Linked DNA regions of Homo sapiens: regions 2 and 3 are each linked to region 1. Evidence: fine-mapped expression QTL. A gene starts in region 1. Each other region holds a variant in brackets. All regions are shown on one strand. Distances are between the middles of the regions.

Evidence for each region. PIP is the estimated chance that this variant, and not a neighbour inherited with it, causes the effect.
Region 2: its variant is fine-mapped to the expression of HHIPL2 in whole blood (TOPMed, PIP above 0.99).
Region 3: its variant is fine-mapped to the expression of HHIPL2 in whole blood (TOPMed, PIP 0.94).

The regions. Positions count from the first base shown.
Region 1 is chr1:222,546,657-222,549,426 of GRCh38, forward strand. It overlaps HHIPL2 (HHIP like 2), which reads right to left and starts at 1,448. Exons shown (of 9, transcript NM_024746.4): 1 at 1,068-1,448. The coding sequence starts at 1,388.
Region 2 is chr1:222,657,469-222,660,238 of GRCh38, forward strand. It overlaps MIA3 (MIA SH3 domain ER export factor 3), which reads left to right. Exons shown (of 28, transcript NM_198551.4): 19 at 1,254-1,355; 20 at 1,985-2,045; 21 at 2,154-2,189; 22 at 2,266-2,333; 23 at 2,438-2,538; 24 at 2,709-2,770. Among named protein-coding and RNA genes, the nearest start is that of MIA3, 41 kb to the left of the region's middle. The variant A/G (reference allele first, on the strand shown) is at 1,200.
Region 3 is chr1:222,689,105-222,691,874 of GRCh38, forward strand. All of the region lies in intron 4 of AIDA (axin interactor, dorsalization associated), which reads right to left. Among named protein-coding and RNA genes, the nearest start is that of AIDA, 22 kb to the right of the region's middle. The variant T/A (reference allele first, on the strand shown) is at 1,713.

The DNA of each region.
Region 1 (2,770 bases):
TAATTCTCCAGGAAACAGCTGTGGAGTGGTGTCTAAGAGGACAGCCCCAGGCGGTGCCACCCAGGTGGCTGACTTTCTGGGCCAGGCTCAGCTGTAATTCTCTCCTGGACTCTGGGAAGCTCGGTTAACCACTTCACGCCCTATGTGGGAGTTACAGTGGTCTGCAGGCTCAGGAACAGTGGCGCCAGGAGTCATGAACAGATGCCTGTGGATAGCCAAGTCATTGTGCTGACAAGCCCAGGGGGTCTCAGTTCAAAAGGCTGCCTGGACTTCTTGCCTCTCCTCCCCAACATCATTAGAGGGGTCCTCCCCAGGCAGCCTCTTTTATCAGCTTTCCAAATGCTGACCTCTCCCCATTAACCCCCAAACACCCTCTTCCTACAAAGTCTGTGTGTGCAGCCTACACCCGTCTTGTTTTCAGGCTGAGCTCAATCAAAACGATGCCTCCCAGGCATGTGGATTTTGGCTGTTGGGCAACCAGGAGAAGCAGAAACTCTGTGAGTCACTGCTACTCAGCAGCTTGCATCTCTCTCTTCCAGCTCTGGAGTGCTGGGCAGACAGAACTCTGGAGAGAGTCTCCAACCCCTGCCACCGCCAGGGTGACGCCAGAGATGCCCTGGCACAAATCACCCAGATGAAAAGGACTGGACCCCAGCAGATGCCACCACTCCCTCCCTTAACGCGCTCGGTAAATTCCACGGGTTTAAGTGCCTAGCTCTCTGAGCACCGCAGAGGATGCAAATAATTATTTGCCATGCACCACAGAGGGAGTGTGGCAAATAATGGCTGCTCTGAGAGCTCCAGGAAGAGTGTCCCTCTCATTCTCCTGGAGCCTGGAGAAGAATCAGGGCCAGCAGAATCCCAGAGGGAGAGCTTTGGGGAACCCATGGAGACCAAATTCAGCACACACTCATGTCAGTGTGCGTGTCCAAAGCCGGCAGCTCCAAGATGAGGCACCCGGCACATGAACTTCTAAAGGGCTGGGCTCCCAAAGCACCCTCCGCTCAGGACCCACACCATGCAGCCCAGCACCCAAACCCCTGGGGCTGGAAGGCACTTTTCACTACCTGGCAAAGGATGTCTTTAATGTAATCTCCACACAGCTCATGTCTCTTCAGATCAAAATATTCCATGATGTCCCAGTACCGGGCAGCGATGCGGCGGTCCTTGTGCTGATCACAGCAGCCGAAGGACTCATAGTCAGAGCAAAACTCAAGGTGCAGAGGGGGCTGGAAAGGGGGCCCGTAATCCAGGCACTGGGGGTGTCCCTGCAGCAAGCCCACCTGGCCCAACAAGAATATGAGGCAGAGGCAGAGAATGCCAGAAGAGAGCCAGGGGGCCCGGCAATGCAGACCACCACACAGATTAGGAGTGGACGTTCTCAGCATTTTGGCCTTGGGAACACTCGGGCTGCTGTGTTTGCTCAGGTTGGCTTCCCTGCTCTGCCCAAGGTCCTCCCTCTCTTCCTCCCCCTACTCCACCCTGTTTTCTCCTCCTTCCTCCTCTTCCCCGCCCCTCCCTGCTGAGGTAGTTTCTGAGCAGTGTCCCTTCTGTGGGCTCCCTTTGAAAGCAGTGGGAGGTGTCCCTTCCCCCCTCCCCCAACCCATCTAAACATGAAGCCCCACTCTAGTGCTGCTAGTGTTATGGGGGCACACCTTTGCTTAGCCAAAAGTGTAGTGGTGTCAATGGCAGAGGTGCTCGATTCCTTAAAACTGCAAAGAATTCCTGCTGTCTGTGGGGATGCCCGGAAATTCACACTTTTTTATGTTTCTTCACAGGCTGAGAGGCCCAGAGTCACCATGAGAGCACCATATATTACATCATCCCAGACTTCACACTCTGTAGAAGGAAAGCTTCAAGCGTTTCTACAGTGCTGAAGGGCCCCAAGGCGGTGGGAGATATGGAGGGGCCATGGCAGGAGGCAGGGTGTGCTGTATAGCTCCTGGGATCTGGCAAGGTGTATATTTGGAAGGGTAGGAAGAGAGGGCATTTCATGAATCTTGCATCCACAGTAAGGACCAAGGAGAGGAAGGAGGACACAGTGAAGGAAAAGAAGGGGAATCTTAGTCCATGCTGCTGTAACAAAACACCACAGACTGTAATTATAAATAATAGAAATGTATTGGTCACAGTTCTGGAGGCTGGGAAGTCCAAGATCAAGATGGCAGTAGGGGCTGGGCATGGTGGTTCATGCATGTAATCCCAGCACTGCGGGAGCCTGAGGCAGGAGGATTACTTGAGCCCAGGAGGTTGAGACCAAACTGGGCAATGCTGTGAGACCCCGTCTCTACAAATATAAAAAGAAAATTAACCAGCCATGGTGGTGCACACCTGTAGTTCCAGCTACTTGGGAAGCTGAGTCAGGAGGATTGCTTGAGCCCAGGAGTTTGAGGCTGCAGTCAGCTATGATCACGCCACTGCACTCCAGCCTGGGCAACAGAGCAAGACCATCTCTAAAAATAAAAAAAAATAAGAGATGCCAACAGGTTCAGTGTCCGACGAGGGCTCTGTTCCTCATTGATGGTGACTTGTTGCTCCCATGGTGGGACAGGATGGTTCAAATCCACTCCTTCAAGACCTTTTATAAAGACCCTAATCCTATCCATGAGGCCTCTGCCTTCATGACCTAATCACCTCCCAAAGGCTCCACTTCTTAATACTATCACATTGGCGATTACATTCCAATCTATGAATCTGAGGTAGGGAGGGACACATTCAGACCATAGAAGAGGGAGGTGGTCCAGTGAAAACAAGGAATCAACAAGGACTG
Region 2 (2,770 bases), 110 kb after region 1:
ATAATTCTGTGTTTTTTCCTACTGGATTTTCTTCACTGCCTTATTAGCTTTCTGATGCCTTCGAGCACATTCTTTCTATTTTTGTCCATATGTTCTTATTTTCAGTGTTTGCAGACTAACTCATCCATTATTGGAAACAAAATTCTCTTGAATCCTTCTTCAAGACTTGTTTTTTCCACATCCCTTCCTAAGCCAGAGTCAGAGAGGGATTGTTCTGTTCTTATATGCACCTTTTACACATTCAGCTGTGAGCTCCATTAGTGCAGAGGTGGTACTTACCATAGCCATACCTTTATCTTAGTCTCTTACAAGGTAATTAGTATAACCACTCATAAAATATTTGCTGAAGTATTTATTGAATGAGCAGTTGTAAAAGAATACATAAACTTTTTTCTCTTTGGTGTTAATAACCCTTTTTACTATAGCTCCTCTATTTTTGTTTCCAATTTATAGAAAATTTGCAAGTATCTTTTGCATCAGAACTATGAGTAAAGAAGTACAAGGGTAACTACAAGTAGCACTTTTAAACCATTAAATGTTGCTGCCTTTACAATCTGTGTTATAGTTGGCTAACCTCTTGAGCTTGAAGGTTATCAGGTTAAAACCAATTTCCAGTACATAGCACCCTGATTACAGGACAGTTTGGATTCTTTTTCTGTTCAACAGACATTGCCAGTACTCGGATTTGTCTCGCTGCTTTATCATGATTCCATTGAAATAGGTAGGGGAGCTCCATATCTGAAGTGTGAAAATGTTCTGGGGTTAATTGTACAGTTAAGGACATGTTCTAAAAAGCTCTTTCATTGGCTGTCTTTATCATGGTACCAGCCTTGGATTGAGAAACAGCCCATAAGAAAATTAATTAGTGGTCTTTCCATGGTTAGAAATAAGAGAATTATCTCCTGCATCATCCTAATAAGCTTAACTGTGTTAGGTTGATCAGTCCTGGCTTTCTACATTGAAGAAAAGTGAGCATCATTTCAACCCAACAGTCTTTGACACATAGTGTTTTTTCACATTTGTTTCATTTACTAGTGAGGAGAGAATTATGAGACGTTAGAAAATGCAGGTGATGTATCAACAGGCCACAGTTGGATTTTTATCCTAAAGGACAGTTTTATTTCCTTCCTGTGACTTTGTATAATCTATGCATTTTTAAGAATAGGATAGGAAGTGAGATTTTATTGGAGTATTCAGAC[A/G]GAATGCCAGGAGGAAAAGAGAAACACTTTCATTGACAACCAGTTTTATCTTAGGAAACTGAGTCAAGAAGAGTATGAACGGCAAGAAAGAGAGCACAGGCTGTCAGCTGCAGATGAAAAGGCAGTTTCGGCTGCAGAGGAAGTAAAAACTTACAAGTAAGTTCACCTCCTAAAGAGGGTATCAGTGGCTAATGAAACTAGTGTTGGCTTTTTTTATTAGCACAAAAGCATAAATAAGTGGTTAGAGGACATGAATACATCAATTCACACAAAAGAAAAACTAAATTTTAAGTTAACAAATGGAAAAATATTAACAAATACCCAGTGCTGGCAAAACTGTAAGGGAACTTGATTCGTGCAAACAGTTCTGGGGGTTGGAGGGGGTGGGAGCAGTTTGTTATATGATGTATCAAAAGCCATTAAAGTGATTTTGCCATTTGATAGACCCAGTAGTCCTAACTTTGGGAAAATTTTTATGATGTAATTAAAGGATGAAAAAAGGTTTATAGTGGAAGATATTAATAATAGGATTATTTGAGAACATATTTAGGAACAGTTAAAGGAATTGTAATATATCAACTCAATCTCCAGCTGTTAAAGGAAATTATGTATCATTAGTTTTCATCATATTGTACTTTTGTTATAACCAACCATGTAAAATATGCTTTATATTTCTGGATAAGCTCTATTAGGGTACAGTTGTTAGGGTAACGGTTAACATAGTCAGATTGTTTGGGTTTTTATTCAGTTGTGCTTTAAATGATAAAGCCAAGTGTAATTCTTAGGCGGAGAATTGAAGAAATGGAGGATGAATTACAGAAGACAGAGCGGTCATTTAAAAACCAGGTAATAATTCTAGTGCCCTACTATATAGTGCCCGGAATTCTTTGATAACTAATAGAGGCTATTATAATGAATCTGTATGCATATTTTGTGATGTATTATCTTTTTCAGATCGCTACCCATGAGAAGAAAGCTCATGAAAACTGGGTAAGATTTCTTTTTTTCTTTCCCTTATTTTGTGCATAGTCTCCCACAACTGAATTTGGATATTTTTCTTCAATAGCTCAAAGCTCGTGCTGCAGAAAGAGCTATAGCTGAAGAGAAAAGGGAAGCTGCCAATTTGAGACACAAGTATGTGGATTTTGATGGCTATATTTTCAGCGCGTGTTCTCTTAAGGAATTGGTTTCTATTTCATATTTAACTCTTTCTTAAATATTCTTTCTCTATATTCAAGATTATTAGAATTAACACAAAAGATGGCAATGCTGCAAGAAGAACCTGTGATTGTAAAACCAATGCCAGGAAAACCAAATACACAAAACCCTCCACGGAGAGGTAAGGGAGCTACCTTGTAAAGGGCAACAATCTGTTTTTTGATGTAAAATGTATATAAGTGACTTTTTGTTTCTGTGTGTAATGGTTATGGTACCCTAGGAATAATCCCAAGAACTGAATAAAGAAAAAAAGGCTGTCTTAAAATGCTAACAAGATGCTGTCATCTTTAGGTCCTCTGAGCCAGAATGGCTCTTTTGGCCCATCCCCTGTGAGTGGTGGAGAATGCTCCCCT
Region 3 (2,770 bases), 140 kb after region 1:
TTAAAATAGAAAACACTTATAGAATAAGGACATAAAGAAAAAATATTATTGTGGCTGGCGCATTGGTTCACACCTGTAATCCCAGCACTTTGGGAGGCTGAGGCAGATGGATCCCTGGCAGACAGGAGTTTGAGACCAGCCTGGCCAACACAGTGAAACCCCATCTCTACTAAAAATACAAAAAAATTAGCCAGGCCTGGTGGCACACGCCTGTAATTCCAGCTACTCCAGAGGCTGAGTCATGAGAATTGCTTGAACCCAGGAGATGGAGGTTGCAGCGAGCGGAGATCATGCCACTGCACTCCAGCCTGGTCAACAGAGCCAGACTGTCTCAAAAGCTGTCTCAAGAAAAAAGAAAATATGTATGTGTGTGTGTGTATATATATATATATATATATATATATATATATATATATACACACATACACACACACACATATATATACATATATATGTATATATATGTATATATATATACACACACACACACATATATATACACACACACACACGTATATATATTTGTACAGCTGTACAAAGTGTTTGTATTTTAAGCTAAATGATATTACAAAAGAGTCAAAAGTTTTAAAAAGTTAAAGTTAATAAAGTTTATATACAGTAAACTAAGGTTAATTTATTATTAAAGACAGGATAATTTTTACAATAAATTTAGTTTAGCCTAATTGTACAGTGTTTATAAAGTCTACGGTAGTGTACAATAATGTCCTAGGCCTTCATATCCACTTATCACTCACTCACTGACTCACCCAGAGCAACTTTCAGTCCTGCAAGCTCCATTCATAGTAAGTACCCTATAAAGGCATACCATTTTATTATCTTTTATATGTACTTTTACTATCCTTTTTCTACTATGTTCAGATAGGTTACATACATAAAAACTTACCACTGTGTTACAATTGCCTACAGTATTCAGTACAGTAACAGGTTGTAGAGGTTTGTAGCCTAGGAGCAATAGGCTATACCATATAGGCTATACCATCTAGGTTTGTGTAAGTGCACTCTATGATGCTCACACAACAAAATCACCTAAGGATGTATTTCCTTGAGTGCATCCCTGTCATTAAGTGACAAATGATTGTATATATACACATGTACTTCCATATTTATATACACACATTCACAAAGAGGGATTTATCCTGAAGAGAAGACTTCAAACAATATGGGACCACCTCCTGTGTTCTGGCTGTGACCAATCTGTATTTCAATGATTACATTCTGGCATGTAAACTTAAAGAGAGGCATCTTACAATTCTAGCTACCTCTGAAGGGTATGTATGTAATTCAGTTTCATTTCTGGCCTTATGGGTGCCCAGTAACTACTCGTGATTACATTAAAGTGAATTCATGGCATAAACTGGAAGACCTAAAAGGCTTCCATGATTTTGTACTCAGTTTACTCAATCTTTAATTTTGGAGTCCTGCAGTTTAGAGCTAAAATGGGTGTGGCATATTGGCATCCCAAAGGAGGAAATCCAGAGACTGCATGTTGCAATTCCGTGACTTACTCCAACATTCCTTCATCTTATTCTTATATTATAATCTATACGTTTATATGTATATAATCTTATAATATATACTCTTCATACATATAATCTATACCTTCTTATATATATAATCTTATATACATAATCCACAGTATATTCATTCTTATGTATGTAATCTATACCAAACCCTCCTGTGAGAAAGAACTC[T/A]GAGGCTGGTGTCTAGATTCTCATTCATTCTCTTTCTTTCTTCTTCTCAACAAATATGGATTGAGTGCCTATAATGTTCCAATCACTGATTTAGATGCTGAAGAGAACAGTGATAAAGACAGAGAGTCTTTGCCCTCATATATGGATCTCAGACTCTCATCAGAAAAAGCAATAAGCCAACAAGTAAGAATGTAACTGTGATTAGTGTTATAAAGGACACAAACAGGATGAGTGTGTAAATGGATTAAGTAGAGAAGAGGGAAAACTTTAGCTAAGGTAGACAGGGTAAGCCTTTCAAAACCAAATTATTAGAAGACATTTGAGCCATGACCTAGGATGAGAGGAACCATATGCAGGCAGCTGTAGGGAAAGGGCTTTCCAGGGATTAGCGAACAGCCTGGAGCAACAACAAAGGCTCTGAGGCAGAAACTAGTCAGGCTTATTCAAGGAATAAATCAACTGTATAGCAGAAGTTTGATAAGCAAGGCAGAAGTGGCAGAAGATGAAAGTTAGAAGGTTTGAAATCAAATCCTAGCCCAAGAATTATGCCAAGACTTCAACATTCACATAGCCACTCTGAATCTCAGTTTCCTCAATTCTACAATGAGAACATTTCCTTCAGAGTCTGTTGTCAGAATTAAAATCACGAAATTACATAGAAAAATTTAAAGTACAAGTATAAACCTACATTATTATATAACTCATTCTCTACCACTATTTAGCCGACTAGAATCCTTGCATTTCAGATCTCACTAAAAAGCACTATTTTTAAAAAAAAAATTATAAGAACATCCTTTCTAAACTTCGTACATGATAGCTCATTGTTAGTAAATGGTTAATTCAACTCAATAAATATCAATTAATCACTAACATAATATTGTATTAGATACTAAGAATGGGAAAGGGGAACAGGTGACAAAAAAGACCATGTGTCAGTCATATCAGAAACAAAAACATATAGTAATATTTTAATAATAAAATGGGGGAAAAAATCAACCTTTACATTTGTATAAAACACCAACAAAAAAGCTGAAAACTGTATCAGTTACTAGGAGTAT